Regions from separate parts of the Homo sapiens genome. Here all the other regions are reported to be linked to region 1. The links are microRNA targets in miRTarBase. Many come from high-throughput screens and were not tested one by one. Region 1 holds a microRNA gene; each other region holds the end of a gene's coding sequence.

Evidence for each region. Region 1 holds the annotated microRNA hsa-miR-3152-5p (AUUGCCUCUGUUCUAACACAAG, at 2,145-2,166, shown strand). A microRNA usually pairs through its seed, bases 2 to 8, with sites in the 3' UTR of a target mRNA and lowers its output. Matches are read on the target gene's strand: a 7mer-m8 pairs with bases 2 to 8, a 7mer-A1 pairs with bases 2 to 7 and ends in A, and an 8mer does both.
Region 2: miRTarBase lists MTA3 as a target of hsa-miR-3152-5p. Seed matches in the 3' UTR shown: 8mer at 3,548-3,555.
Region 3: miRTarBase lists NUDT18 as a target of hsa-miR-3152-5p. Seed matches in the 3' UTR shown: 7mer-m8 at 893-899.
Region 4: the mRNA of DMGDH is a reported target of hsa-miR-3152-5p. The part of its 3' UTR that is shown has no 7-base or 8-base seed match.
Region 5: miRTarBase lists BZW1 as a target of hsa-miR-3152-5p. Seed matches in the 3' UTR shown: 7mer-A1 at 1,172-1,178 and 7mer-A1 at 1,963-1,969.
Region 6: the mRNA of TUBGCP5 is a reported target of hsa-miR-3152-5p. Seed matches in the 3' UTR shown: 8mer at 3,236-3,243.
Region 7: miRTarBase lists RSBN1 as a target of hsa-miR-3152-5p. Seed matches in the 3' UTR shown: 7mer-A1 at 2,189-2,195.

The regions. Positions count from the first base shown.
Region 1 is chr9:18,571,172-18,575,395 of GRCh38, forward strand. MIR3152 (microRNA 3152) reads left to right here and starts at 2,135; the gene lies at 2,135-2,208. ADAMTSL1 (ADAMTS like 1) reads left to right here. Exons shown (of 29, transcript NM_001040272.6): 4 at 2,859-3,095.
Region 2 is chr2:42,752,542-42,756,765 of GRCh38, forward strand. It overlaps MTA3 (metastasis associated 1 family member 3), which reads left to right. Exons shown (of 17, transcript NM_001330442.2): 17 at 833-4,224. The coding sequence ends at 858. Among named protein-coding and RNA genes, the nearest start is that of OXER1, 9.5 kb to the right of the region's middle. RefSeq lists enhancers at 3,503-4,073, 4,074-4,224.
Region 3 is chr8:22,103,898-22,108,121 of GRCh38, reverse strand. NUDT18 (nudix hydrolase 18) reads left to right here. Exons shown (of 3, transcript NM_024815.4): 3 at 227-1,244. The coding sequence ends at 822. It overlaps FHIP2B (FHF complex subunit HOOK interacting protein 2B), which reads right to left. Exons shown (of 17, transcript NM_022749.7): 17 at 3,211-4,224. Among named protein-coding and RNA genes, the nearest start is that of NUDT18, 3.4 kb to the left of the region's middle. RefSeq lists enhancers at 1-362, 759-903, a cis regulatory region at 831 and a silencer at 3,678-3,825.
Region 4 is chr5:78,994,589-78,998,812 of GRCh38, reverse strand. It overlaps DMGDH (dimethylglycine dehydrogenase), which reads left to right. Exons shown (of 16, transcript NM_013391.3): 16 at 516-1,249. The coding sequence ends at 731. Among named protein-coding and RNA genes, the nearest start is that of ARSB, 11 kb to the right of the region's middle. RefSeq lists an enhancer at 1-926.
Region 5 is chr2:200,821,768-200,825,991 of GRCh38, forward strand. It overlaps BZW1 (basic leucine zipper and W2 domains 1), which reads left to right. Exons shown (of 12, transcript NM_001207067.2): 12 at 380-4,224. The coding sequence ends at 411. Among named protein-coding and RNA genes, the nearest start is that of BZW1-AS1, 12 kb to the left of the region's middle.
Region 6 is chr15:22,996,281-23,000,504 of GRCh38, forward strand. TUBGCP5 (tubulin gamma complex component 5) reads right to left here. Exons shown (of 23, transcript NM_052903.6): 23 at 2,897-3,586. The coding sequence ends at 3,540. Among named protein-coding and RNA genes, the nearest start is that of CYFIP1, 18 kb to the left of the region's middle.
Region 7 is chr1:113,762,599-113,766,822 of GRCh38, reverse strand. RSBN1 (round spermatid basic protein 1) reads left to right here. Exons shown (of 7, transcript NM_018364.5): 7 at 370-4,224. The coding sequence ends at 843. Among named protein-coding and RNA genes, the nearest start is that of PHTF1, 5.2 kb to the right of the region's middle.

The DNA of each region.
Region 1 (4,224 bases):
GATATTGCATTATCAATTTAAAAACATAATTGACACTTTTATCAGAATTGGAAACGTGCAGAAAATTTTCCCTGGTTCATATTAAGAGGTCTCTTAATTATATCTTCTGCTCATTAAGGCAGAGGCGATTCAGCCTGACCCTTCTAACTGTTTCACTTGTATAGAAAAAGGAGGCAAAGGAAATTTTAAGAGGAGTTTGGAACCATTTCAAACAATTTCCTCAATGTTCTGCTTTATTGTATTTCAGTATAATGAAGTACTGTACCCCCAGTACAATGTACTCTACTTCTTCTGTACTTGTACTGAGTAATCAAGTGACTCCTGGGATGATAGGTACTATCAAACGAAAATACTGTATTTAAACATTGCTAAACTGTCAGTTCAACTTTAGACGCTCCCATTCAATGACCAGGAACTTGTGGATCATATAAAGGTAGGTTTATTAAACATGCTAAGCAGGAGAGAGCAGCACCTTGACAGAGACTCTATCGTATCTCAAGTGGGGAAATTTAAGGAAGGCTACGTGTAGAGTTTGGGGGCAGTTGTTAGTTATAGAGTTGTTTTAGGGCAGAAGTTAGTAAGTGAGGCCTAGGCAGATATTGGTAGAATTTGTAAATTAGGCAAGTGGAAGTCTTATCTTTGGAATGTGAGTTCATTAAGACAATATTAAATCAGTTTCTCTGTGCTCTAGAACATATGGTCTGAAAGGAGCTTGTGTTAAACATTTAAAGTTGTTTGTGGCCAGTTGCGGTGGCTCATGCCTATAATCCCAGCACTTTGAGAGGCCAAGGCAGGTGGATCACCTGAGGTCAGGAGTTCGAGACCAGCCTGGCCAACATGGCAAAACCCTGTCTCTACTAAAAATATAAAAAAATGAGCTGGGTGTGGGGGCACATGCCTGTAATCCCAACTGCTCAGAAGGCTGAGGTAGGAGAACTGCTTGAACCCAGGAGGCGGAGGTTGCAGTGAGCCGAGATCACGCCACTACACTCCACCCGGGGAGACAGAGCGAGACTCCTTGTCAAAAAAAAAAAAAATAAAGTTAATTTGTATTGTATGTCATGATTTGACACAATTTACCTGTGTTGTAATTCATAATATAGTTTTGCTGGTTGTAGGTAGTTTTTGTTTTATTTTACAAAATAAACGTGTAAACAGCCTGTATAGCACACATATTTATTTATTTATGGATCTTAAAAAATTTAAACTGCATCCTATTATCTAAAAAATTAATAATTGGTAAATTTTATTCATACTCTTTTCAGACAATATTCAAAATGTTAAGCCTTGCTGGGTGCCTGTGTATCTGTACCTATGTTATATACATTATTCTTTTCCTCTGCTACTATGGTTTATTCACTCTGAGAACACATAATACTAACAGTAAAATGTCTTTGACATTTTATATTGTATTTTGAACAATTTCATGTTCATCCTAAATAAATATTTGTTTCTACCCCACATTGCCTAGAAAGAATTTGTGCTCCCTCAACTACCAGAGCGTTATATGCTCTTTAGTAGTATCACTAATGTTTTGGAAAAGAGTCAAAATTTTCAGTGCTGTTTTAGAATGCTTATTTAAAGGTAAAGAGATTTTTCAGAGAAAGAAACCTTATATAAGAGAACTCTCACAATGATAATGTAGTAACAGGGAACTGCTGAAGGCTACATGGAAATCCTTTATTTAAAACAAAAAATTAGAATAAAAGCCTTTCTACAGCTGGAGAGTCGACGACAGTCTTCCATGGTAAATTTTAATCTGAAGGCTTGTAGAATAAGATAAACCTATCAAAAAGCCCTTCCAAGGGATAGGCAATATTTGCCTTTTTAAAATTAAATCTTACCTGCTTTTACTGAGATTTATTATTCATTAGATAATGGCCATTGTTAGCCATAGTTTTACATTTTAAATTGCCCTTTATGAAACTTACATCAAAAAGATTCTTATTTTCCACTGATCTCTAACAATATAATTTACAATTCAAATTGAGAGAATCTCCTCATACTCCATCCCTTTGCCTTCTGTGGCCTCATTAAATAATCATAGTAATAGCTACCATCTACTCAGTATATTCCTTGTGCATATATTTGGCCAGCATGAGTTCGTGAACTTCTCACAACAACCTTGAGAGCTGTGCAGAGTTATTGCCTCTGTTCTAACACAAGACTAGGCTTCCCTGTGTTAGAATAGGGGCAATAACTCTGCACTGCATTGCAGCCACCCACCCATCTAAGGAGGAAGTCCATGCTCTTTCCATTCTGCCATGCTGCCTTAAGCCAAAGCAATTCATATATAAATGGTTTCATATTTTTTGTTCCCCATGTTTAATTCTAGATACTATGCAACCTAAGTCCTAGACAAAAAATTACAACTCCACAAAAACTTTTTGAATGAAATTTTTATAACTTTTTACTGCTAGTTATTCAAATAAACAATTGTCATAGCTCTCAATATCAGAACTGAAAGAGACAAATAATTTCAACTAATCCTCTGACTTTACTAGGTTCTACTTATGAGGAAGTCAAAATGATAGTACAGTGTGGAAGAATTCATGAACCAATAGACAACTTTCAAAAAATGTATGTCCCACCTAATCAGAATATCTATTTCAAGCCAATTATTTTTCCATTTAAACTCAATCAGAAAATGTATTTTGAGGTGATTGCTTTATCAGATTTCTACATTTTGCAAGCCAAATAATCATATAACCTCTAAGATGATATTATAAGTTCCATCTATCATGACCAGGACATTTGTTTTGCTTTCTAAGACCTAAGCAGACCATATAGCTGCTCTGGTTTCATGTTTGGGGGTATCCTCCTAACCTTTGTATGTCCTTTCTCTCTTTTTTCTCCAGGACTGCCCACCAGAAGCAGGTGATTTCCGAGCTCAGCAATGCTCAGCTCATAATGATGTCAAGCACCATGGCCAGTTTTATGAATGGCTTCCTGTGTCTAATGACCCTGACAACCCATGTTCACTCAAGTGCCAAGCCAAAGGAACAACCCTGGTTGTTGAACTAGCACCTAAGGTCTTAGATGGTACGCGTTGCTATACAGAATCTTTGGATATGTGCATCAGTGGTTTATGCCAAGTAAGTGCTGATTTGTTCTCATTCAACTTGTCCAGAGGGTTTCAATGTCTTTGTGTAAATGGTTTACATAGTCTCACTCTCTGAATCACTCATCTTTACACTTTTTAGAGTTTGTAAATGGTGAAAGATTTGAAAATTAAGGTATGATTTCAGTGAAAAGTACCAAGTGTTGTATTGTGCGAAGGAAAAGTAGACTAGAGTTATTTTTCTTTCCTTGAGTGTCACTTGAATATAAAAGAATAAAAATTTTTGAATAGTGTTTATCAATTATGTACTAGACTTTGAAATTATCCCCTGGATTGGCTATTCCTGAAGTGTGTGTTTGTGTTTGTGTGTGTGTGTGTGTGTGTGTATTTAGAGACTGGATTTTCATTGACTCAGTTTCAGAATAAATCAGGTAAGACCAATTCTAAAATCCCCAAGTAAACTGTAGGAAAACTTGCTACTTTACTATAATTTCCATTGTATTGAAAATTCAGACACACTGTAGAGAAAGTCATGGAAGAGCCAGCTAGGTTGGACTTAAGCCAGTTAAATCTTTAAAACAGGATTACAAAAAGGTTTGATTTCTGGTATCCATCCATTCATCAATGTCTACTCTAGGTAGGGAATTAGTAAGGTGAAAAAGGGTTTGTATGTTTGTCATGTCTTTGCCATCTTTATTTTCAGGTCCACTTTTTGGATTAGGATTACCAGTCTAGTTTTTGGAGCAAGCAGTTGCTATTGTTTTTCTGTGTGCTGTATTTGACTATATGCTTTTATATTTCATGAAGCAGACACAAAATTTTGAGAGTATTTGCCTTTTCCAACATGGTGTCAGCTGAAATTTTCTCTCTTCAGAATGTATAATATCACGGCTAGGAATGTAAGAGAAATATATGTTTTAGTAATTTGTTGTTTCAAATTTATTTTTTTAAAACTTACATCTATATTTGGATGTAAAGGCAAAAACTGTAGTGTAAATGACTATAAGAGATGTGAGATGTCAGGCAAGGTTTTATGCATGCAAGAGGGAAACAAACATAGTCAACCTTCCTAAAGTTTAAAATCATGAGGCAGAGAAACTGATGTCATATAGGAGTTTGTCACTGATGAAACATATCTTAAGGTTTCCTTATATACAAGAGAT
Region 2 (4,224 bases), not on the chromosome of region 1:
GAAGGTTTTTGGGGAAGTGGAGGGGGTGGGAGTGAGGGGCATAGGAATAGTTCCTGACACTGTGGGAGAGTGAAGTTCACTCCCCTCCTACAAGAAATGTGTTCATAGCCTCTGGGTGCCCACATCATTATGATTAATTATGATGAGCTCAGATGAGATCGTGCCTCCTCCCAGCCAACTGTGTTCCCTATTCCTTAGTATCCGTCAGAAAAGTTCCATGAGTCTCTTCTCTTGCCTGGTGTACTGTAGCACCTCTCCAGTGACCACTAAACCCGCCTATTCAAAACCCAGCTTTTAAGATCTTTCCGTCCTTCAGTATCAATTATATATTTTATTGGCCCTAATTAAACTTTCCCTTTGATCCAGTGTTAAACTACATTGTGAGCCCTTTTTTTTTTTTTCAGACAGGGTCTTGCTCTGTCGCCTGGGCTGGAGTGCCGTGGTGCGACCACAGCTCACTGCAGCCTTGGCTTTGTGAGCTCAAGCAGTCCTCCCCCCTCAGCCTCCTGAAGTAGCTGGGACTACAGGCATGCACCACCACACCTGGCTAACTTTTTATTTTTATTTTGGTAGAGACAGAGTGATGCTATGTCGTCCAGACTGTCTTGAACTTCTGGCCTCAAGCCATCCACCGGCCTTGGCCTCTCAAAGTGCTGGGATTATGGGCATGAGCCACCACACCTGGCCTAGTCATGAGATTTTCTTTGACCTACTGCTGAGCCTCCTTTCCCTGAAGGTTGTGATGTTGGGAGGGGTGAGTCCATCCTCCCTTTCATCTTGCCTCCACCATCGGGACTTGTTTAACCTTCACACTGTTACTTCCCTTTTCTAGAACTCACGTGCTGTGTGTCAGACTGAGCTTTCCCTGATTCATTCTACAATCCAAGACTTGCTGCACTGTCCTGCTGATGTTCACAGCCGTGCCTGGGAAGAAGGCAGCCCCACTCCCAGTACATTTCAGTGGGAGACCTCTGCGTGCATCCATGGAGACGCAATGGGGCGGGGAAGGAACTGTGGGAGTGCACGTTCCAAATCCTGTGTCTCCACGTGTGGATCAGCAGCACCTCGCTTTCTTGTCAGAGACCTCGCTGTTACGGAGCGAGACCTGCTGAGAATTGAGGGGCTGAGGGAACCCCTCCACCTCCTCCCTTCTGCAGCGCCCTGCGCCCCACCCAGCAACAGCGGCCACTTGGCAGTGGGGCTGCTGCAAGCTCAGAGCCGCTGCCACCCTGCATGTGTCCGCTCAGCTCGGTCTTATGCTGTATAGTTACTAAATATGTACAGGAGGGCCATGGCATCTTTCTGAATGGATTTTTCTTAAGAAATGCGCCAGTGTTTATGAGGTTCAAGGTATTTCCCTGTCCTTGCTGTTACCGTCACTCAGCTTTTTCTCGATAGGCTTCATCCTTGTTTTTTTGAAATGGGGGAATTTGCTGTTTACCCTCTGCATTCCTATATGTGACCCTCCCTCCTACTCCTCCAAGGAACAGAATTACCGAGGTTCTGACAAAAGATAAGCCTGTAAACTCATCATCTGTGTTTTGTGGTTGGAGAGAAACTGGTGTTCTGCCCGGCTCTGCTTGGTCACAGACAGCTCCAGCAAGAGCAGTTGTTAAAAGTGCCAAGCGTGTGTATCACTGTGACAAGCCGTTTGCTTACTGCCCTGTTCCCTTGCAGCCAAACCAGCTGATGAAGAACTGCTGCCAGGTGGGTCCTACAGCAGGTCACAAATGACCTAGTTTCATTTTAAGCAGACAGACTCTGTTTGGCCTAGAGGTGTGGAGTGAGAGAACTGTGTTTGTGGGTATGAGTCTGTGTGGCCAACCCCATGACCCCCACCCCTCCAGCCCAACATCTTGTGAGCACATGTGACCTAGGCCCCGGGGGACCTGCCTGCTCCTTTGGCTTGGGCTCTTCGTGTTTCCCACCTGCCCTCGGCACGAGCCCTTGGTGGCATCACAGTTGGCCACTCAGCTGTGCTGAGTAGCTGTGCTACTTGTGCTGGCAGCTGCAAGGATAGGAATAGCTCAGCGCCCGATGAGCTCCCTGAGCAGATGTGAGGCTGGCAACTCCCCTGCCCTCTGTTTGCAGGCACAGGGTCACAGTCCCAAGAAAGACAACTGGAGTCTGATCTCCCAGCCATCTCTGGGGTTACTAGGAGGCAGCTGGATGGCAGATACGAGAGGCCCAAATAGCCAAGCTGTTGCAAGACAGAGTGGCTACAATTGAATTGACACCCTGGGAAGCACGAGGTAACTTGGTAAGGATAATGATGCTGTAGATGTCTGTGTCCTCGGAGGCTGAGCTCCGCTTGGCAGAGAGAGCGTGCTGTGTGAGGTGGAGGGCGGTTTTGCAGACATCTCAGCTTCTTTTCTGAGGAGGAGTTGGTTCTCATCTTAGGCTTCTGCAAGGGCGAGCATGGGATGTCTCCACCACCACCCACTCTTGGAGCTGTGCTGGGTCTTGGCTTGGGGCGCTGAGGGTGGGGCCTGTGTCAGAAGCATTTGGTGAGAGGGGTGGAGGTGGCAGGCAGGGGTTCTCCTCAGGGTTCCCACTGAGGGGTCCCTTCAGCAAAGACCTGGGAGGAGGTGCCGCATCACGTGGATGTTTCTTCCCTAAAGAAAAAGACACAGGAAAGCTGTCTGTCTGTACCCTGCTCTGGATTTATTGTCGTACTTGGACCCAGAAGGGGAAATGATTCCCTCACCCTTTCACTTTCTCTCTGAACCCCTACTAAGTGGTGACTGCAGATTCTGGAAACAATTAGCTGCCCGTGACTCAGCTGCCAGCTTCATTTTCTCTGCCTTTTGGGAGAGGCCCTCTCACCCAGGCCCAAGAGATTTGGAGACAGGAGTCAGGCCAGGTCTGAAGCAGGAGAAGGGAGGCCCCTCCTATCTACCCAGTTGACATTTGGCTTTGGGAAAAGCGCAGCTTGTTCGAGCCACGTGTGCCAAGCAGGCTTTTCCTTCCTCTTGTAAGTAAAGCTCGTGGTTCTGTAGTCCAGTCATCCTAGGAGGGTGATGTTGACTGAGACTTCACGCTCTCCCTTTGTCTCTGGAAACTGCCCCCTCGTTCTGACAGAATCCCCCAGGCAATGGAGGAAGGGTGCCGAGGCGCCTCTAGTCTGTGCCTTTGCCGTTGGAAGCATTTGGTGCTGAGAGGGTTTCCCAGCCACCCGCTCCCTTTCTGGGGCCATGGTGTCCCTGCTGTGTGTCAGTGGCATGTCACTGTGGTTCAGTGAGCACATGGGTGGACGTGCAGAGACTGTCTGCGCAGCCCCCAGCAGACATGCCCCTGGGGTGAGGACACAGGCTCTGCAGGCTATCTCCCCCTCTGGCTCAGTCATCGCCTGCCCACCCTTCACTTCTTAAAGGTGCGCAAGAGAGGAGGGCCGACTGGAGGGTGTCGCCGGAAGGTTTCAGCCTGCCCTTCACAATTCCCCTTGTGCACAGCCCAGTTTCCATCTCTCAGGGCCCACCCAGGAAAATGGATTTCAAGTGGGGGTTTTCATCCAGAGATTTGTTTAACACAAAACAAGAAAAGCTGAGAGGCAAAACAGGGGAGTGAGGGGCAACCCAGAGGTGGGGAACAACAACAGCAAGCCGCCCCCATCCTGAGACTGGCTGGGCACCAGGGGAGGACGCGTCACCAGAGCCTGGGGCCAAGGCCACTGGGGGACCTGCCACACTGTGGACCTGTCTGGTGGGGGCTGGAGCCTCGAGAAGCCATGATTCTTGTCAGAAACATTTCCCCAGGCAGAGAGAGGGGGCCCCAGCCTCTCCCCTCCTCTTGGCCTCCAGAGTCCTGCAGGTGCCTCACAGTAGTGAAACCCAGTTGGAAGCAGCTGCCCTGGGAGCCTGGGACAGGCGACCCACCGGGTCAGTCCCCTGCCACTCAGAGCAGAGCAGGGGGCTGAGGGCAAGCAGGTGGGGCTGTGCGTGGCCTCAGTGCACTCGGTGTCATGTCTGAGCCTGGTGTTTATGCCCCACTGCTGTCCTAAGTCCCTGGCGAGGGGAGGTGGAGGAGCTGCCCCGTGGGTGTTTGGAGATTCTGTTTTACTCTGCCTAGAGAGGAAACGGCTTTGGGGAGGGAGGGGGAAGCCTTTATTCTTTACTGTTGTCCCTGTTTTCCTTTGGGGGAATTTACTCAGTTAGCAGCCCCTCCTCACCATTCCCCCCAGGAAGGCCATGTCCCAGTTTTCTGTCCACCCCTCCTGTTCCTCTG
Region 3 (4,224 bases), not on the chromosome of region 1:
CTGGAGGCAGTGTGAACAGGGCCAGTTGACACCTTTCCCCCAGCTCCTCGGTGAGGTGAGCCCCTCTACAGCCAGTCCTGTTATGGCTGGCACAGCCTGGCATGGGCAGATTCCAGCCTTTGGGCTGGGGGCCTCTCTCCTGGGTCAGGGATGTCTGTTGACTCTGCCAGAGCTGCACTTCTCTCCACACAGACCCTCCCTGCCCCATCCCCCACATCTCCCCCAGGTGGAATTCTCAAGACTTCCAAGGAGGCCGATGCGGAGTCCCTGCAGGCTGCCTGGTACCCACGGACCTCCCTGCCCACTCCGCTGCGAGCCCATGACATCCTGCACCTGGTTGAACTAGCCGCCCAGTATCGCCAGCAAGCCAGGCACCCTCTCATTCTGCCCCAAGAGCTACCCTGTGATCTGGTCTGCCAGCGGCTCGTGGCTACCTTTACCAGCGCCCAGACAGTGTGGGTGTTAGTGGGCACAGTGGGGATGCCTCACTTGCCTGTCACTGCCTGTGGCCTCGACCCTATGGAGCAGAGGGGTGGCATGAAGATGGCCGTCCTGCGGCTGCTGCAGGAGTGTCTGACCCTGCACCACTTGGTGGTGGAGATCAAGGGGTTGCTTGGACTGCAGCACCTGGGCCGAGATCACAGTGATGGCATCTGTTTGAATGTGCTGGTGACCGTGGCTTTTCGGAGCCCAGGGATCCAGGATGAACCCCCAAAAGTTCGGGGTGAGAACTTCTCTTGGTGGAAGGTGATGGAGGAAGACCTGCAAAGCCAGCTCCTCCAGCGGCTTCAGGGATCCTCTGTTGTCCCAGTGAACAGATAGAGAGGTGGGGGAGGTGACAGGGAGCTAGGCAGCCGTGCTCCCTCCAGTGCGGACTTGTCTCCCTCTGAGGGAGGCAAGAGGCTGGCGATCAGGGATCTTGTTGCATTGGGAGCAGGGGCGGCTCTCCTGGTCCCCAGGAGAGATGCTTTGAGGAGCATTCCTCTAGATTGCACAAGGGACAGTGCCTTTAACCAAGCGAGGAGTCCAAAGCTCAGGACCTGACTACCCTGAGGGCACGCTGACGCCTCTTCCCAGGGGGATGGGGAGCTTTCTGCACCCCCAGTGGCATCTCCTCATCACGTTCTGTGCCGTCCTTGGGAAAGGCCTGCATTCTGATCCTTCCAGGCCCTTCGAGCATGGAGGGGCACTGGGGAAGGTCCCCCGAGGGAGGAGCACGTTGCTGAGTAAAGAGGTGTTACTCACCTTGCCTCCCTGCCTACACGTCTCTGTGGGGAGAAAGTGATGGGGACTACTGTCCAGGAGCTGCTGCTCCCCTCGTGTTACCCACAGGCACCCATGCCTTTCCCAGTGCACTGACAGTGCGGGCCAGTCTGCTGTCCAGCACGGCCCCTGGGGCTCCCTCCAGTTGGCCTGCTGGCCCGGGATGTGACTCTGAGGGGACCCATCCCTAATGAAACACAGCTCTGAGCCCTCCAAGGGTTGGGCAGTGGGCGGCCCCAGAGGAACTTCAAGTGGGACAGGAGCTGCAGGTGCTGCCTCTGCTCTCTCCTTGAGCCTCCCTGGCGCAGACCACTCCCCCTGGCTCTCCTGCCTCTGCCTTTTCACAACTTCAGCCCATGCCAGACCAAACCTTTTCTTCATTTCCCCTCAGCCTCGCTGAATCATGGTAGGATTTTTTTTTTTTTTTTTTTTTTTTTTTGCTAAGTGGCCGGGCACAGTGGCTCACACCTGTAATCCCAACACTTTGGTAGGCTGACACAGGTGGATCACTTGAGGTCAGGGAGTTCGAGACCAGCCTGGCCAACATGGCAAAACCCCATCTCTACTAAAAATACAAAAAACTAGCCGGGCATGTTGGCAGATGCCTGTAATCTCAGATACTTAGGAGGCTGAGGCAGGAGAATCGCTTGAACCCCGGAGGCAAAGGTTGCAGTGAGCCGAGCTCCAGCCTGGGTGATAGACTTCGTCTGAAAAAAAAAAAAAAAAAAAAAGAACTTTGGCCAGGCACGGTGGCTCACACCTTTAACCCCAGTGCTTTGGGAGGCTGAGGCAGGAGGATCGCTTGAAGGCCAGAGTTTGAAGCCAGCCTGGGCAACATAGTGAGACCCTGTGTCTACAGGAAAAAAAAAAGGCCAGGCAAGGTGGTGCACACCTGTAAATCCCAGCTATTCAGGAGGCTGAGGCAGGAGGATGGCTTGAGCCCGGGAGGTTGAGGCTGCAGTGAGCCATGCTCAGGCCACTGCACTCCAGTCTGGGTGAGACAGCAAGACCCTCTCTCAAAAGAAAAAAGAAAAGAAAGAGGAAAAAAAGAACTTTACTGAAATTTAAGCAAAATCAAAGGAAATGAACAAATAAAATATATCAAGTGTTCTACGGTAGAGATTTCTGATTCTGAGCAAGGAAACACTAGCACAGGCTCCCCTTCTGAGGGCCAAGATGACCTCCAAGGCCCCTTTCCCAGCCCCCTCCCTGCCTCTCTTGGCTGCCCTCCTTTCTGGGCCCTGGAGGGTGGTAGGAATCCTTGTACCCTCTGAGGACAAATACCTCACAAATGATGGAACCAAACCCCTTTGTTTCAGTTCACTTCTCTCAGTGTCTAAGGGACCCACTGGCCCATATCCAGTCAGCCGGGCAATGACATTTGGCTATTTGCCCCCATTATTTAGCCTAGTAGTTTCCAACCCTGGGCACACGTTAGGGTCACCTGGGTTTTTTTTTTTTTCCCTCAAACAGGGTCTTGCTCTGTCACCCAGGCTGGAGTGGAGTGGTGTGATCCTGGCTCACTGCAGCCTTGACCTCCCAGGCTCAAGTGACAAGTGATTCTCCTGCCTCAGCCTCCCAAGTAGCTGGAACCACAGGCGCATTTTTAAGCTTTTAGTAGAGATGGGGTTCTCACTATGTTGCCAAGGCTGGTCTTGAACTTCTGTCCTCAAGTGATCCTCCCGCCTCAGCCTCCCAAGGTACTAGGATTATAGGCGTGAGCCACCATGCACAACCACCTGGAGAGCTTGAACTCTGGGTGTACCCCCAGCAACAATAATTTAACTGGTGATGGGGCACTGGGCATTGGGATTTTAAAAAGCCACCCAGTGATCAACACGAGTTGAGAGCCAACATCTGGCTCCTTTTCCTCCACGTTCTCAGCCTGCCCTCCCGCAGTCTCTTGGGGACCCCCCTCAGAGGATCCCCCACCCCTCCACACACATCTGAGGACAAAGGGTTTATTTATGTGTTAACTTTTCTTTTTCCCTGAGAACACACCTGTGAAATTTTTTTTTTTTTTTTTTAGACAGGGTCTTACTCTATTGCCCAGGCTGGAGTGCAGTGGTGCAATCGGCTCACTGCAGCCTTGAACTTAAAGACAAGGTTTTAAATATCAGGCCTACTTTATGACTAAAACAGGCATACAACACGCAGCATAAACACACCCAAATGAGACTTGCACACAGATGCTCCCACGTGGTCCATTCCCTCATGGTGTCTCCGGGGTGGGCAGACTCTCCGCTGCAGGTCAGCCCAGCAGAAGTGGCACTGCTCCGCCAAGAGTCTGGCTCCTGGCAGGCGCTGAGGATCAGCAGATCTGCACTGCCAGAGCCTGTCTGTTTACCGCCCACCCCACCTCCCTGCTGCAGCGCTAGAAAAAGAATTTGTCTTCCTTGGGGAGGAAGATGGGCCCGAATTAGCAGTGGAGTCCTGGGCAGAAGGTGGGGAAACTTGGCCAAGAACAGAGCCACGGTGTCCACGCAATCACACCATTTATTGCTGTGCTGTCCGGGGAAGACACCGTGCAAATGCCAAAGTGCACTGAGGAGAGGGGAGGGTCTGTGACTCCCAAACCCTCGAATATTTTATGAATCTAAGAGTCCAGACGCAGTTCATCCACGGAGATCTGCGCCCCGTCCACACCAACACCCACGTTTGTGCACCCACATGTGCACGGTGCTCTTCAGAGCGGCGAGGTCCTCCCCCGCGGGGAGGAATGTGGGAGAGGCAGAGGTCACTGAGTTTCCTCCTGTTTCGTGTCACCTCTTGGCAACCTGTGCCTGGCTTCTAGAAGCGGCATGGGCAAGAAAAGGAAGCAAAAGAGGCTCTGGCCTGCTCCTCCTTGCCCAGGAGCAAAGCCAGCAACTGTGTAGTCCCGCTGTGAGGTAATGCCTGGCGCCGCCCGTGTATTCCTGCAGGTCAAGACAGATTCGGGCCGGGTGGGGTGGCAGCCCAGCC
Region 4 (4,224 bases), not on the chromosome of region 1:
AGTGGCCAGATCTCAGCTCACTGCAACCTCCACCTCCCGGGTTCAAGCAATTCTCATGCTTCAGCCTTCTGATTAGCTGAGAGTATAGGCGCCCGCCATCATGCCCAGCTAATTTTTGTATTTTTAGTAGAGACGGGGTTTCACCATTTTGGCCAGGCTGTTCTTGAACTCCTGACCTCAAATGATCCGCCTGCCTCAGCCTCCCCAAGTGCTGGGATTACAGGCACGAGCCACCACTCCTGGCCTAAACCAAGTATTACTATTTTAAAAATGAGAAATTTCAGAGTAATACAGATGTGTACCTTGATAATTACTTTTCATAATTTGTAAACTTTCATTCATCTTCTCAAAATGTGAAGTTTTCCTCCTGTGTCTCTGGCGTTGTCCCCCCAGACAGCACTTCATAAAACTTCCATTTTGTAAGTTGAATCTGTATTTTAGTTTTTTTTCACCCAGAGATGAGGAGCACAGAGCTGTGACCAAGATGCTGAGGACTGTTGGGTCTTGTTTTCCAGGTGGTTGGCAACACGACATCTGGAAGCTATAGCTACAGCATCCAGAAGAGTCTGGCTTTCGCATATGTCCCTGTACAACTAAGTGAAGTGGGACAGCAAGTGGAAGTTGAACTATTAGGCAAAAATTACCCAGCAGTCATCATACAAGAACCTTTGGTATTGACCGAACCAACCAGAAACCGGCTTCAGAAAAAAGGTGGAAAGGACAAAACTTGAAAAAAGACCTTCAGCAGTCAACTGAATTAGAGTTGCTAATGACTGTCCTTGAAATTATTATAACTGGCTCCCAGGGGAATAGAGGAAACCAGGAATTCATTTCAAAATCATCAAAGTCTAAATTTAGAATCTTAATGAAACCTTTCTGTTAAGTGTTTTCTAAGCAAGACAGAATAATAGATAAATGATTTACATTGTTCTTTTAAATGAAGAAATTTGAAATGAATGTTTTTTTATTTACCCCACATTACCCAATCAGTAAAACATTTAGGTGTTTGCTAATATACACAATCATTACTATAACCTAATTAAGGGACATTTTATAATTTTAGTAACAAATGCATTCGGTTCTTGACAGCTGAAAACAAATTAATAAATTATCTTTTACATAAAAACATGTACAATATTGTTTATGGATTTACTTCTTTGAGAAATCTTTCCTTAGATGAATAAATGAAAGTTTTAATTTTTCATGATATATCTGTGATGAAAATAGTAAAACTTAACATTGACATATAGCCAACATTTTAATTCAATTCTGTGAAATATTTATCATTTTCTTAATGACTTCCCTGAAAGGAGCTTTATAGGACATTATTATTGTCCTTTCAAAGGTTGTTTTAGAAGAGAAATTGCAAGAAAGAACAGAGTCTTCCAAAGGAAGAGGTACTTGTAAACTTTCAGAAATGAAGCTGACACATAAATAGATTGTGCCAGTATAAACACAGTTTGAATACTGAACACCTCTCTTTGGGAAAGAATTAATGCAAGTTGACATCACATGGTGCTGTTCTGAATATCATTTCACAAAGCATTTGACAAAGCAGGTCAAACAAAAGCTTAAGAGCTGACAGGTTTTCCTTAGCGCTACGTACAGCAAGAAAAAAATCAATTTAGAAATAATTCTTTGATATACTTTTTGAAATTATTTGGGTGTAGTTGATGGAATAAATAAATTTTTTTTGTAAAGGGTGGTTTCTCATTTATAATTAATTTATACATACATACATTTGTTACACATTTATAGAAGTTTTCTTAAGTATTCAAAAAACAGAATGTGAAGCATGATAAGATTCTGTCATTTGAATAAACTTTAAAATGATTTCTTAATGTGTAAGTTTTGAAAAGGTGCCAATTTTACATTTTAAATGTTTTATAACAGTAGTTACATATTAGAACTCTTCACATGTTCATTTCTCTTTGGCATATCCTCTTAGATGAGAAAAGAAGGAAATCCCTTTGGTAACAAACTAATTTCCTAATTATTGGGAATATTATCTAGGTTCTTTAATCCAGTTCATGTTAGTGCTGGGAATTTGGGATATCCGCTTTTTTGACTGGGAATTGGGATATCTGCTTCTCATTCTCTGCCTTTCTATAACCCCATGACTTTAGGATAGTTACATACCATCTCTGGGTTCCTCCTCTGTGAAATAGGTCTAGACTCTTTTTTGGATACTATATTATCAAGAAGCAATAATGAAAGTATAACATTAAATTCATATCATATAGTTAATATAGCGCTAAAACTAATGAATAAAAGAATAGACTATTCAGATGAATGTTAAAGTTTTAAAGAAATCCTACCCACAATATAAAAGACGTCTACTCTGATTTCCTTAAGAAGTTGCCCTCATTCTCTCTTTTGTTGTATGTTAGGTGCTATTAGGTTTTGTAGGTTACCCCAGCACCCCCACTCATACCCAGCCAGTCATCCTGGCCTCAGCACCGGGGTTGGCATCAGCCAATTCATGGGCTGACAATGACCTTCAACACAACTTGGCCATGGAGAATTGAGATGAGTTAACCAGATTTCTTCCATGGGAATTTGGATTGTGAACTATCAGAGGAAAAACTGGTTAGTACTAAAAGCTGAAGCTGAAAAGATGGATAGAAATAGAAGCCATAAAGCCAAGGGGGCAATGAGAGCTCCCAATAAGGAGGGAGACATTGAGAGAGAATGAAAGACCAGTTCCCAAAGCTCTCAGCTCCTGATGGTTTGCTGGCCAGTTCTTGGGTGAGAACCTTAACTTAAAAGGGTCCAACTAAAACCACTAGCTTCTGAAAAGTGGAACATACACAGAGAGAGGCCTCAAAGGAATGGGTCCAGGGAGGCCTCAAAGGAATGGGTCCAGGGTTAGCGTCAGACATGAACAGCAAACAGCCAGCATACTTGAAAACACTCTGGTGATGTGCAGAAGTCCGTATCTACAGCTCAGAAAAACATTCTCAAGAATGTGATGATGAATGATAGGCACTTTCTTCCCTTGAGTGAAGAAAGCTTTTTAGAATTGCAAAAACAGTTTCTAGTTAACACATTACCAAAACATGAATGTGTGGTGTTATGTTGCTAATGTTCACATCCTAACTAATCTGTGTCTTTCTTCTTTTCTACTGATAAGGAAGGATAACAGAAAAAAACATTTTAAAGTATACCATGTGGGACATTAAATAGCAGACAGATGAGATTCTGGAATTTTACTGAGAAGATTTTGTGCATATTTTACTTGAACAAAAGGAAAGGTTGATATTATCAGGAAACACAGCAGTTGTGAAAGGAAGAAAGTTTTGGCTATGCAAACAGCATTCTTTAGCCAAAGTCCCAGGAAAGCAGAGCACCAAATATCAAATTAATTATATCCTTCTTCAGATGAATCTTCATATAAAAAATATAAATTATTGTCCTATTTTTATTTATCCCCCTGCCACTAATGAATTAGAATAGTAGTAGTGTATTTAGTTTGTTTTCTGCTGCTATAACAAAATGCCTGGGTCTGGATAATTTATAAAGGAAAGAGCTTTATTTAGCTCATGGTTCTGGAGGCTGGGAAGTTCAAGACCTGGTGGTTGCATCTGATGAGGGCCTTGTGCTGCTTCATAGCATGGCAGAAAAGCAGAAGAGGTGAGAGGGCATGCTTGTGAGAGAGAAAAGGGGGCTGAAATCCTGCAATAGCTAACCCATTCCTGAGAGAAAGGTAATAATGAGAAAGGCCATGACCTAGATACCTCTTACTAGGCCCCACCTCCCAACACTGCCACACTGAGGAATGAAGTCTCCAACAAATGAAGTTGTGGGGAAAAATTCAAACCATAACATGTATGGAAAGCTGCATTATGAATGATAAAAGGGTAATACATTATTTAATTGTATTTTCTCCAGGAAAAGATTTTGGAAATATTAGCATGCCATGAAGCACAGAGGTGGTGGGGTGGGTGATACAAAAGCTACTGGGCTAAAAAATCACAAGACCTGCTTTTCCCAGGTCTGCCACCAACCAAGCACAGTCTACATAACATCTACTAATGCCTCTCCTGTATTTTAAGTTCTATGAGTAATTGCTTTTCTTAGTATTCATTAGTCTACACATGTTTGTGGAGTACTTACTATAGGCTAGGCACTGAAAGAGCAGTGATAAACAAGACAGACATGGCCCTGCCTTCATGAAGTTTATAGACTAGAGAGATCAAGCATTTAACTAAAAAAAACAGGGAG
Region 5 (4,224 bases), not on the chromosome of region 1:
ACAGCTTCAAAGTTACATGGAGGCTGGGTGTGGTGGCTCACGCCTGTAATCCTAGCACTTTGGGAGGCTGAGGCGATCAGGTCATTTGAGGCCAGGAGTATGAGGCCAGCCTGGACAACATGGGAAACCCAGTCTCTACTAAAAATAAAAAATTAGCCAGTTTTGGTGGTGGGCGCCTGTAGTTCCAGCTACTTGGGAAACTGAAGTGGGAGGATCACTTGAACCCGGGAGGCAGAGGTTGCAGTGAGCCAAGAGGGTGCTGCTGCATTCCGGCCTGTGGGACAGAGGGAGACTCTGTCTTAAAGAAGCTTCAAAGTTATAAATGGGAACTTTTGCCTTCTGATACATAATGTTTGACTGTTTTTTTCCCCTTTTCTAGAATCTGAATCTGAAGCTGAAGAAGGTGACTGAATTTTGAAACTACACCCTCAGTAAAGCAAACAGGAGTTGTAGATAAAATGTCATGTCTCATGTGTCCTGGTTCTTACATCTTCCTACCTCCCTGTATCAAGCATGATATAAGGGCTTTCATGGCAAATTTTATTTTAACTGTTTCTATGGTTGCTGGAAATGTTGGGTTTAGTTTCTAAAACCATGTTTTAAGTAGCTACAGGAGCTATAGATTTGAATCTAATGTTGCATTAGTCTTTTCAGTTATCTTCTACCTCCTGTATTTTCTACTGTAATAATGTAATTTAAGGCCTTCCACAATGAACAGTTCACTTTATTCCCTGGGTTTTCTATAAACAGTTTTAAGGATATGATTTGGTTAAAAAATAATTTGTTATAAAAATTCTGTTTGCAAATTAAACTGGAAAAGTATCCAGAGTCTCAAAAGGCAATGATTTGTGAGATAATATGGCATGCCCGGAGCCCTGCTCATCAATGAAAAACCCATATGTAATAATCGAATTCATTTAACATGAATCTTGAGTACGTGGACCATTGCTTGCATGTTAACTTTTTGTTTTGTTTTGTTTTGTTTTGTTTTGCATTTTTAACTCCAGATATCCTAAAGCTCAATTGTTTGGTCTCTGGTTTTCATCCTTAGAGAAGCCATGGAGAACAGACTTGAAAAGTTTAGGAAATCATAATGTGGCAGAGGTGGTGGGAAGAAGAAAGTTGAGCTTTTTCCCCTTGAGAAACTTCTGCATTTAGTTTCTATCTTTCCAGGCAAAACAAATGGGTATTCTTTTCATACAACCATTTTCAAATGAACCTTAGAAAAGTCTTAACATTTAAGGTATTTTATGCACAGAATACACTTAGATTGATAGGAAAGAACTCGTAATGGAGTTTGAGTAAAGAAAATGACTGATGTACTAAACCCAGTAAAAATTGTTGAAAATGTTAAAGGTCAGCATGTTCTAATTGGGAATCTAGATATAGCTTAGATTTCCTATTGGCTTAGAGTATTTGCTATAACAAATGAAGTGCAATGACAATTATATATTCCTACTCGGTCATACTGGACTGGCTTCGTTCTCTTAATATACTCAGTAATGACTCAAGCCTCTGGCTATTAACATACCCTAGTTGCCGTTTTTTAATTGCCATGAGCCAAATACTTCTTGGTATACAATTGATCCATTTATTTTAATGGCTGCCTTTTCATTTTCATCTTTTCTTGCTGCTACCCATCTATGTATGTAGTCATTGGGGGGAAAATGTAGCCACATTTTTTATGGGAAGACTTTGTGTTAAAAGTGAACATTTTGAAGGTTTTTAACTGGTGAAACTAGCCTGGAATAATGCCACCAGAGACTGAGTGGAAATCGCCCCTTTTGAAGGTGCCATTCTTATGAGCCAAAAGTTTGTCATTTAAAAGTTCATTTTGAGGGAATAACATGTAATATAATTTGAAATAAAGGTATAGTAACCTTAAAAAGAACATTATAACTGATTGTTGTGAATGGGGTGAATTTGTTAAAATGAGTAACTTTGATAAAGTTTTTCATGCACAGGCAAAATGTATTCACTAGATTTCTACGTAGTGATCTGCTTTTACTTTGTAATTTGTAGTTCTCAAAAGACTTTTTTTTAAAAAAATAAAGTCCATACTTACACTTAGGCTTTATACATCAGTCTTTTTTTTTTTAAATTCCATGTTAATACCTAGTGGTATTGTATGTTGTGTGTTCAGATGTCTTTACTGTATCTGTATACCATTAAGTAATAATTAGACTCCCAAACTGTAAACCACCTACACAGAATTCTGGTGTAGCTAAAACTACATTAATATTTCTACAACCAATTCATTGCATGTTTCTTCCATACAAAGTGTGCCATTTTATACTGTGTATAGTGAAAAAGTGTGTCATCTTCCAGAACTACATTATTATCTTTGATCGTAGTTTGTTTCTTCATAATGACACTGTAGTGTTTACTTAGTAGAACATTATAGTAAGTGGATATCACTTGTGACAGTAATAGTGTAAAGAAAGGGAATGCTTTATAAAAAGATTGCAGATTCCATTCCATATAAAAAGATTCCATTCTGAATCTTAAGTGGTAATTTTAGAATTCAGGTGCCAGTGCCAGCCTATGGCCTCAAGTATGTAATTCTTAATATAGATGTTAAATTGTACTTTTAATTATGATTGGATAAATGTTTTTTCTAACTGTCAGTTTCTAAGGCTGTCTCCTTAGAAACTAAATGAGTTTTTAGAGCTGGTTGTAAGTTTCTTAGCCTTACTCTGTGAGTTATAGATGTTATTTCATTCTATATATAGATGTTTATTCCATTCTTATTTAAAAAAAAAAACCTCCATATACCAAAAATGCTACAGGATATTTTGAAATAGCATATTTTAGTTAGGGGAAATGCATGTGACCAAGAGGTTGGACTTCTAATTCAGTTTTTCAAAAGCTTTTTTCCATTATCATACCCCCAGCCTTTTTAGGCTTTTTTTTTTTTTTTTTTGAGACGGAGTCTCGCTCTGTCACCAGGCTGGAGTGCAGTGGCGCGATCTTGGCTCACTGCAAGTTCCGCCTCCCGGGTTCACGCCATTCTCCTGCCTCAGCCTCCCGAGTAGCTGGGACTACAGGCGCCCGCCACCATGCCCGACTAATTTTTTTGTATTTTTAGTAGAGACGAGGTTTCACCGGATTAGCGAGGATGGTCTCAATCTCCTGACCTTGTGATCCACCCGCCTCAGCCTCCCAAAGTGCTGGGATTATGGGCTTGAGCCACCGCGCCCAGCTAGACTTTTTTCTAATAGAGTCCCCCATAAATTTTATTACCATAGATACGCTGTGTATGTACTGTTTCTGTGCTTTGTACATGAAAAGAGTAAAATGTTTTTGTTTTTGTTTTGGAGACAGTCTCACTCTGTTACCTGGGCTGGAGTGCAATGGCATGATCTCAGCTCACTGCAATCTCTGCCTCCTGGGTTCAAGCGATTCTCTTGCTTCAGCCTCCTGAGTAGCTGGGATTACAGGCGGCCACCACCACCCCTGGCTAATTTTTGTATTTTTAGTAGAGGTTTCACCACGTTGATCAGGCTGGTCTCAAACTCCTGACCTCGTGGTCTGCCTGCCTTGGCCTCCCAAAGTGCTGGGATTACAGGCGTGAGCCACCATGCCCAACCAATTTTTTTTTTTTAAATCCTTGGTAGTGATTGACCCCCATTGAGAATGCATGCTCTAATATTTTTTAAAAGGGAAGAAGACCTAGTGATAGACCTTTGCATTGGCAGGCATGTCTTTATGTTTATACAGTGAAGTAGTATTTTTTCTGTCAGGGTCAATAGAAAGTAGACGAAATTCATTTTCAGCCAATCTTTCACCAGTTGTGCTTTGTTCCTTACCCCACCACAGGCAACAGACAAAGCATTTCCTGCTGTCTTTCAAGGTCTTAACAGATTCTTTCTTGATTATAAATGTATTACTAAGTAGAATCATTTGGGTTCTTTCTATAAAAATCAGTGAAAATCCTCTAGATGAATGAATTAAAGTTGTAGGCATAACACTGATAAACCTCTGCTCTCATACTGAAGTAGGCTGCTTGCAGGAACTGACAACTATTGGTTGGCTTTAAATGTAATGTAGATGCCAAAGTTTTAGTGTACAGTGTTACTTAAATTACCAAATTACCTTTGTACAAATATTCCTCAGATGCTGTCTACAGGTGCCATATAAAATAGGTTGATAAGTATTTGCAAATTCTGGTAAATTGCCTTGCTATGATTTTTCATGCTCAGTATTAGTCCTCTAGTATCAATA
Region 6 (4,224 bases), not on the chromosome of region 1:
AGAGGCTGTGGTGCTCGTGCGGTTTAATTGGCCATTTTTGTGCCTTCCTTGCCTCTTTGTGCTCATTAAAAAAAATGTCTTGGGCTGGGTGCAATGGCGCACACCTGTAATCCCAGCACTTTGGGAGGCTGAGGCCAGAGGACTACTTGGGCCCAGGAATTCACATCAGCCGGGGAACATAGTTAAGACTTCATCTTTTTAATTTTTATTTTCTTTAATTTTTGAATCAGAGTCTTGCTCTGTCACCCAGGCCGAAGGGCTGTGGTGTGATCTTGGCTCACTGCCACTTCCAACTCCCAGGTTTAAGCAATTCTCATGCCTCAGCCTTCCCAGAGTAGGTGGGACTACAGGTGTCTGTCACCACACCCAGCTATTTTTTGTATTTTTAGTAGAGATGGAGTTTCACCATGTTGGCCAGGCGGGTCTCAAACTCCTGGCCTCAAGTGATCGGTCTGCCTAGGCCTTCCAAAGTGCTGGGATTATAGGCATGAGCCACTGCACCTGGCTGAAAACCCAACTCTTCCAAAAAAACACAAAAGATTAGCCGCATATGGTGGTGCATACCTGTAGTCTCAGCTACTCAGGAGGCTGAGGGAGGAGTGCTTGCTCCCCGGAGGTTGAGGCTTCAGTGAGCCAAGACTGTGCCAATGCGCTCCAGCATGGGCAACAAAGCAAGACCTTGCATCAATGAAAAAAAAAAAAGCTTGTCTTACTAATTTAAAATGCCTTCATACACTCTGAACATAGTTACTTCTGGACACCCTGGGCAACAGTGGTTGCCTCTGGGCATGACATGGTTCCTGAAAGGGGCTAAGGGGAAATGTTCTCTCCCAGTCTGTGGCCTGTATTACCATTTTCCTAGCAATGTTTTTTGGTGATGTCCAATTCACCAATAATTCCTTTTTTTTTTTCCTTTTGAGACGGAGTCTTGCTCTGTCACCCAGGCTGGAGTGCAGTGGTGTGATCTCGGCTCACTGCAACCTCTGCCTCCCAGGTTCAAGCGATTCTCCTGTCTCAGCCTCCTGAGTAGCTGGGACTACAGGTGTGCGCCACCACGCCCGGCTGATTTTTGTATTTTTAGTAGAGACGGGGTTTCCCCATATTGGTCAGGCTGGTCTGGAACTCTTGACCTCAGGTGATCCACCCACCTTGACCTCCCAAAGTGCTGGGACTGCAGGCATGAGCCACCGTGCTCGGCCCCTTTTTTGATTTTATGTAAGAAATCTTTGTCTACCCCAAGTTTGTAGTGTTAATTTCCCATGTTTGCTTCTAGAAGCTTTCTAGTCCTAACTTCCACATTTTGTTGTTTCCAGTTCTAGCTTTCATATTTTTTTTCTTTTTCTTATTTTTTTCTGAGACAGAGTCTCGCTCTGTCGCCCAGGCTGGAGTGCAGTGGCATGATCTCAGCTCACTGCAACCTCCGGCCACCCAGGTTCAAGCAATTCTCTGGCCTCAGCCTCCTGAGTAGCTAGGATTACAGGTGTGTGCCACCACGCCCAGCTAATTTTTGTATTTTTAGTAGAGACAAGGTTTCACCACATTGGTCAGGCTGGTCTCGAACTCCTGACCTCATGATCCACCCACCTTGGCTTCCCAAAGTGCTGGGATTGCAGGCATGAGTCACTATGTGTGGCCTTTTTTTTTTTTAAAGATAGTCTCACTCTATAAAAAGAAAATATGGAAAAATTTAATAGTAAGCATAATTCTATTCAAAATATAACTGGTTAGCTCACAAAAATTGCTCAGAAATATTGCCAGGCACAGTGGCTCACGCCTGTAATCCCAGCACTTTGGGAGGCTAAGGCGGGTGGATCACCTGAGGCCAGGAGTTCGACACCAGTCTGGCCAACAAGGTGAAACCCTGTCTCTACTAAAAATACAAAAATTAGCTGGGCGTGGTGGTGCACGCCTGAGATCCCAGCTACTCGGGAGGCTGAGGCAGGAGAATCACTTGAATCCAGGAGGCAGAGGTTGTAGTGAGCCGAGATCGTGCTACTGCACTGCAGCCTAGGTAACAGAGTGAGCCTCCACATTTCAAAAAACAAGGAAATACCAAACAATAGTATGTACCAACAGTTGGCCCTAAGTGAAGTTGGCCTTTTACATTTATCGCTATCAGTTGAAGCTATTTTCCATGTAGAACTTCTCAGGCACAACAAAACATATATACATTTCTTTCTTTCTTTTTTTTTGTTGGAGACAAGGTCTTGCTCTGTTGTCCAGGCTGGAGTGCAGTGATGCAATCATGGTTCACTGCAGCCTTGACCTCCCGGTCTCAATCGATCCTCCCACCTCAGCCTCCCAAGTAGCTGGGACCACAGGCATGTGCCACCATGCTTGGCTAATTTTTTTTTTTCGGAGTCTTGCTCTGTCACCCAGGATGGAGTGCAGTGGTACAATCTAGGCTCACCGCAACCTCTGCCTCCTGGGTTCAAGTGATTCTCCTGCCTCAGCCTCCCAAGTAGCTGGGATTACAGATGTGGGCCACCACACCTGGCTAATTTTTTTGTATTTTTAGTAGAGACGGGGTTTCACCACATTGGCCAGGCTGGTCTTGAACTCCTGACCTCAGATGATCCGCCCACCTCGGCCTCCCAAAGTGCTGGGATTACAGGGGTGAGCCACCGTGCCCAGCCCTTGGCTAATTTTTAAGTTGTTTTTGGAGAGATGGGGTCTCATATGTTGCCTAGGCAGGTCTTAAACTGCTGGCCTCAAGGAATCCTCTCACCTCAGTCTTTCAAAGTGCCAGGATTACAAGCTTGAGAAACTACACCCAGCCAAAATATAAACATTTCTAGGACAGCTACATCTAAGACAACTTTTAGGGAAGACAACATGTAAAACTCTATATAAAAAGCTTCTGTGACTGTAGGACAGCAGCAAAAGGATAATAAAATGATTTTAAGTCCTTTAATTTATTTTGAATATCAGTAATTACATTTTCAAAATATGATATAATTTAAAGGTATCAGTACCATAAATCTGTATCTTACAGTAGGAAATGTAAGAGTAAACAGCCTATATACACTTTGTACTACTGACACAATTTTATGTATACAACTCTATACAGTATCTACTAATCTCCAGAAAACCCACCTACAATCCATCTGTCTGGACTGTGGGCAAGTGGTTCTTTCTGAGTCAGGGTCTCACTCTGTCACCCAGGTTGCACTGCAGTAGTGCAATCATGGCTCACTGTAGCCTTGACCTCCTGGGCTCAAGTAATCCTCCCATCTTTGCCTCCTGAGTAGCTGGGACTACAGGTACACACCACCATGTCTGGATACATTTTGTATTTTTGGTAGACACCGGGTTTCACCATGTTGCCCAGGCTGGCCTCAAACTCCTGGGCTCAAGTGATCTGCCTGTCTTGGCCTCCCATCGTGCTGGGATTAGAGGCATGAGCGACTGTGCCAGGCTGACTGTGGACAAGTTTTACAAATAAACCAAAATAAAAATATTTTCACTTTTCAGCTGCACATGGTGGAAATGTACATGTATGATGACAAAGTCGGAGATATTTATTACGCTGAAGACATTTAACTTTGTTCCATGCCAGCCATGAGTGACAACGCTAGAGATTCCACTGTGGGAAGAATAAAAATAAGGTTAAAACAATAGGTTTAAATGTTGAAAAAAAATTTTTTTTGAAGACGGAGTCCCACTGTCACCCAGGCTGGAGTGCAATGGTACAATCTCAGCTCACTGCAACCTCTGCCTCCCGGGTTCAAGCAATTTTCCTGCCTCAGCCTGCTGTGTAGCTGGGATTTCAGGCATGTGCCACCATGCCTAGCTCATTTTTGTATTTTTAGCAGAGACAGGGTTTTGCCATGTAGGCCAGGCTGGTCTTCCAACTCCTGACCTTAAGTGATTCACTCAACCTCCCAAAGGGCTGGGATTAGAGGCATGAGCCACCGCGCCAGGCCAGGAGCTTTAAATTCCTAAAAAAATTTTTAAAAAGACTAGATTTTGAAAAGAAATAGTTACAAAAACTACACGATAGTGAAGTGTGACAGAAATCTATTCTGCCATCAACTTTATTTAATAGGAGTTTTAGAAATCTGTTGTAATAAATGGTATACCAGAAAGTAAGATCCTCAGGCTTACACTCACCTCACCGTAATGCTTAAAAAGCAATTCAAAGCATGGGACAACTGCTAAGGGACTTTTCAGTTTTGAAAATGGTGAGAATTTCTAATTCTTCATGGGATCAGTAACAAAACA
Region 7 (4,224 bases), not on the chromosome of region 1:
CCCCATTGCACTGTGTCCCCTCAACTGCAAAAGGCTGAAAGACACACTAAAAGAAAAGAAAACATGTTGCCTTTATGTGTGGTAAAGAATATTGATACTTAGCTGTACTTTGAAATACTTAAATGATTCTCTAAGCCATTCTGATTTTAACCTGTACTTTGTTACTAAAGAGGTAGTAAAATAGGAGGAAAATAATTTCCCAGGCATTACAAGAATTTTTAGAGAGTTACCTATCATTTAGTGTTGCTTAATTTTAATTTGATTATTGTTATGACACATTTTGTTTCTACTGTTTTCCTTTGCTAATTATTTCACTTGACTAAATTATTACATATTTTAAAGTCTCACGTAACTTTTTTCTTTCTTCAGTGCGTACAGTGGGTAGATGAAGCTAAACTAAACCAAATGAGGCGGGAAGGCATTCGTTATGCTAGAATTCAGCTTTGCGACAATGATATCTACTTCATCCCTAGAAATGTCATTCATCAGTTCAAAACAGTTTCGGCGGTGTGCAGCTTAGCCTGGCATATAAGGCTTAAACAGTACCACCCTGTTGTGGAAGCCACTCAAAACACAGAAAGCAATTCTAACATGGACTGTGGTTTAACTGGAAAGCGAGAATTAGAAGTTGACTCCCAATGTGTGAGGATAAAAACTGAATCTGAAGAAGCATGCACAGAGATTCAGCTGTTAACAACTGCTTCATCATCTTTCCCACCTGCATCAGAACTTAATCTACAGCAAGATCAGAAGACTCAGCCTATTCCAGTTTTAAAAGTGGAAAGTAGACTGGACTCTGACCAGCAACACAATCTGCAAGAACATTCAACCACTTCTGTGTGATATGTACATATTCAAACACATTTTTTAACTTTTTTAAATTTTGATGTGAAGTTATAGTTTTATAACTGGCTTAAGTTAAGTTTTATTGGAGAAATCTTGCCTATAATTCTATAAAGAGAAATGACATTCCACAAATGTCAAGCATATCTTTTTTACACAGATTATGCAAAGTTAAGAGTTGTATCTTATCCCGTTAGTACAGTATGTAATAGTGGGTCTGCTGCTACTTTCTGTTTTAAGGTGTGAGGTAACAATTCAATCTCTTCTTCAAATCAAAATGAGAATTCTCTGGAATAACAGATTCTTGTTTGGTAAATTATTCACTTCCCTTAATTTTATCTTGCCTTGTCTCTTGCCATATTTGCTGTTTTTATGGATAAATAAGATTTATGGTTTAGTACTTGTGTCTTTATGGCACAGGTTCAATTTCTACAGTGAAAATGGCATAGGTTGCAGGAAAGAATTTCTGCATCTGGTACATGGGCAAGTAAGTTATTTAGTTCTAACCACAAATAACAAGTAGTTTCCAAGGAAATTTCAGTGGCTCTCTGGTTTCTTAACAAAAGAGAAAGCACAGCACTTTCTGATCCAAACTGTCTTTTTTTTGTATCTGTTATTTAAAGCCCAGTGGATATTTCAATTAAAAAAAAAATCTAAAGATGAATAGTCCTTGGTCATTCATTATCCATGGCTCATTAATCTCTTCTAGAATATATGCTAACTGTTGAAGATATTTTGGGTAAAAGAGATAATGTTGACATGATACTCTATTGTTCTGCTTCCTGGCATCCTCACATTTTGTGGGGATAATTTTGCTTCCTAAACTGATCACAACTATTAAACTTAGAGAATAATAATAGTCTTTCTGATGAGGCTGCCATATTTTGAGCATCAATCTTATGATAAACTATTCTTGTCACTTGGCATCAACCTCTTCATGATAAATATCTACTACTGAGACACTTCAATTCACAGTTTTAACTGGTGAATACCTGGGTTTATTTACTATTACTCTGTGTTGCTATTTTCTAAGAAAGAATACAGCACTAGACTTCATCCTAGAGTTTCAGGTAGGCTAATGCTTAGTGCCTGAGTATTTAAATTTTCTTTTCAAACAGGCACAGTTCACATTGCTAGTATGGTCCTAACTTTCTGTTATTTTAGAATGTTAACATGATTCACATTATACTTTCTCTTAGTTAATAATACAGTAGGCCTTTTGTTTATTAATGGAAGAGTACTCCCCACACCTAAGACCAGATTCTTATATCTCCCTGGTTACAGTGCAATTTGGAGATTTTTTTTTTTTCCTGGATGGTAAGATTTGAAATATTTACATTAACATAGGCAAAAAAAAAAAAAAATACAAGATGCTGCTTTATTATGTCTGTCACCATGAAAACTTAGCTGCATCTTTTGAAATATCAAATATGAATTTTCTCTAAAATATTCTGAAATAGGTTAAATCTTATATAAATATTACTTTGTGCAATATTGTTGTGTAGTTAAATGCATATTAGCAAAGTATAGAGGTCACTGTGTAAACCGATAGAAAAGTAACCATCAGCAAATACTGCAGTGATTAGTTAGAATCTGTATTATTCCTTATATATATGTATATGTATGTATTCTCTGTTACAAAGGATGAAGACAAATAGGGATACATTTCAATGTAAACCATTTATGAATTGGAAGTGATGTTGGCTTTAGTTATCTTTGTAAATAAGGTAATTAGAATGGTATGAAAGGTAATGTGATTATTGCAGGGGTGTTTTTAAATCTTGGGTATAAATTCTAGGGTAAATTCCAGTTTATCCAGACTAGTTTTTAACGGGACCTGCCTTTGAGGGTGTTTTTTGTTATTTTGTTGGGGAGGGGTTTAATCACAAAGTGTGTGGGTTTGGGTTATTTCTTGTTTTTATTTTTCTGTCCAGAAGAGCTTTACCAGGCTGTGCAAAGTAAAATTCTTCTCAGGCAACATTTGCTTTTAAAAATAATCATGAAGAGAAGGCTGTTAAAGCAAAAATTTTTTTTTTTTAATTTTTTCTTGTCTTCCAAGATCCGATTTCCCCATCTCCCACTTGCCATCCAGCAGATGCCATCTGTCATCCAAGCTGGTCATTGCTAATAAACAAGGAGACTGTCTCCTGACAGCCAGCACTGTGTATTATCACTCAGGAACCAGCGGATCTGCAAAGACCTACAATCAAAAGCAAATCCCCATTTTCCTTTTATAAAACATTCTACCCTCACCTCCAATATAAACACATTAAAAGAGTACAATAAAAATGTTTAAAATCATGTACTAATAAATTCATTGTATGTTAGAATTGCAATAGAATGAAGAGAAACATTTAGCTAGTAACGTGATCTGAAAACTGAATGTCCTATGTGAGTATTAGATTTTAATAGCATGCTTTAAAGACTGATGAGTATAAAAGCAGAAGTTTTGCGTTTTTTACTGCTTTCAAAGCTGTATCCTAGTTTAGTGATACAAATGATTGCAATTTTTCTAAATCATTAAATTATTTGGTTTGGTGGAGTGAGGCATGGAGCAATCTGGCGTCTTCTGATTTGTTAAAGTAGTGATGGCAGTGAAGTTGTAACTGAAATTTAAGCTGATCTTCCTTTTTGGTATATTATCCGTTGTGCCAGCTCTTGAGATTACTTGCACAATGTGGCTATAAGTTTTAATATTTTGTGGAGCAGAGGGATGGTTTTTAAATGTGCTTATGGAAAGGACCCAATAAATGAATATTCCTAACTTAGTAAAGTAGAATAATTTCATGGTATTCATTAAAAAGCATAAAAGTCTTCCTCTTGCCCCAGAAGTAATTCTCTATACCAAGATATGCTAGGAGTAGGATGATGATTCAAAGTGGTAACCCAAATTCATAAAGCAATAATAATAAAAACCTATATAGTATGTTCTCTCCTCCAAAGTTTTAACTCTAAAAATTGGTTCCTAGGTTTAATTGTACCTTTAATTTGCTTATTCAGTACTTAGAATTTGTTTAACTGGTACTTTTATTATTTTTTAGTGAAAGACTTTTGAAAAGTGCCCTTTCCCCTTAAGAGACAGTTGGAATACCAGTTGACTAATATTACAAGCTCTTGTAGGGGGAAAAAGGAGCTTATTAAAGTTGTTTACTAAACTTTAGGAAAAGATGTCTTGCATCAGTCTTACTAGGCATAAAAGTCACACTTAATGACTGGAAAAAACTTGCTTATTGCCTTTCCCTATATAAATATTAATTGTCTAGAATGAAAGCTAATATAGGAACAAGACTCCCAAATCCATGAAAACGCTTAGTGAATATATTCTTAATCATTAATAAATTAGCCCATTATATTTTCATCTGTATTTGCCATAAAAAATTT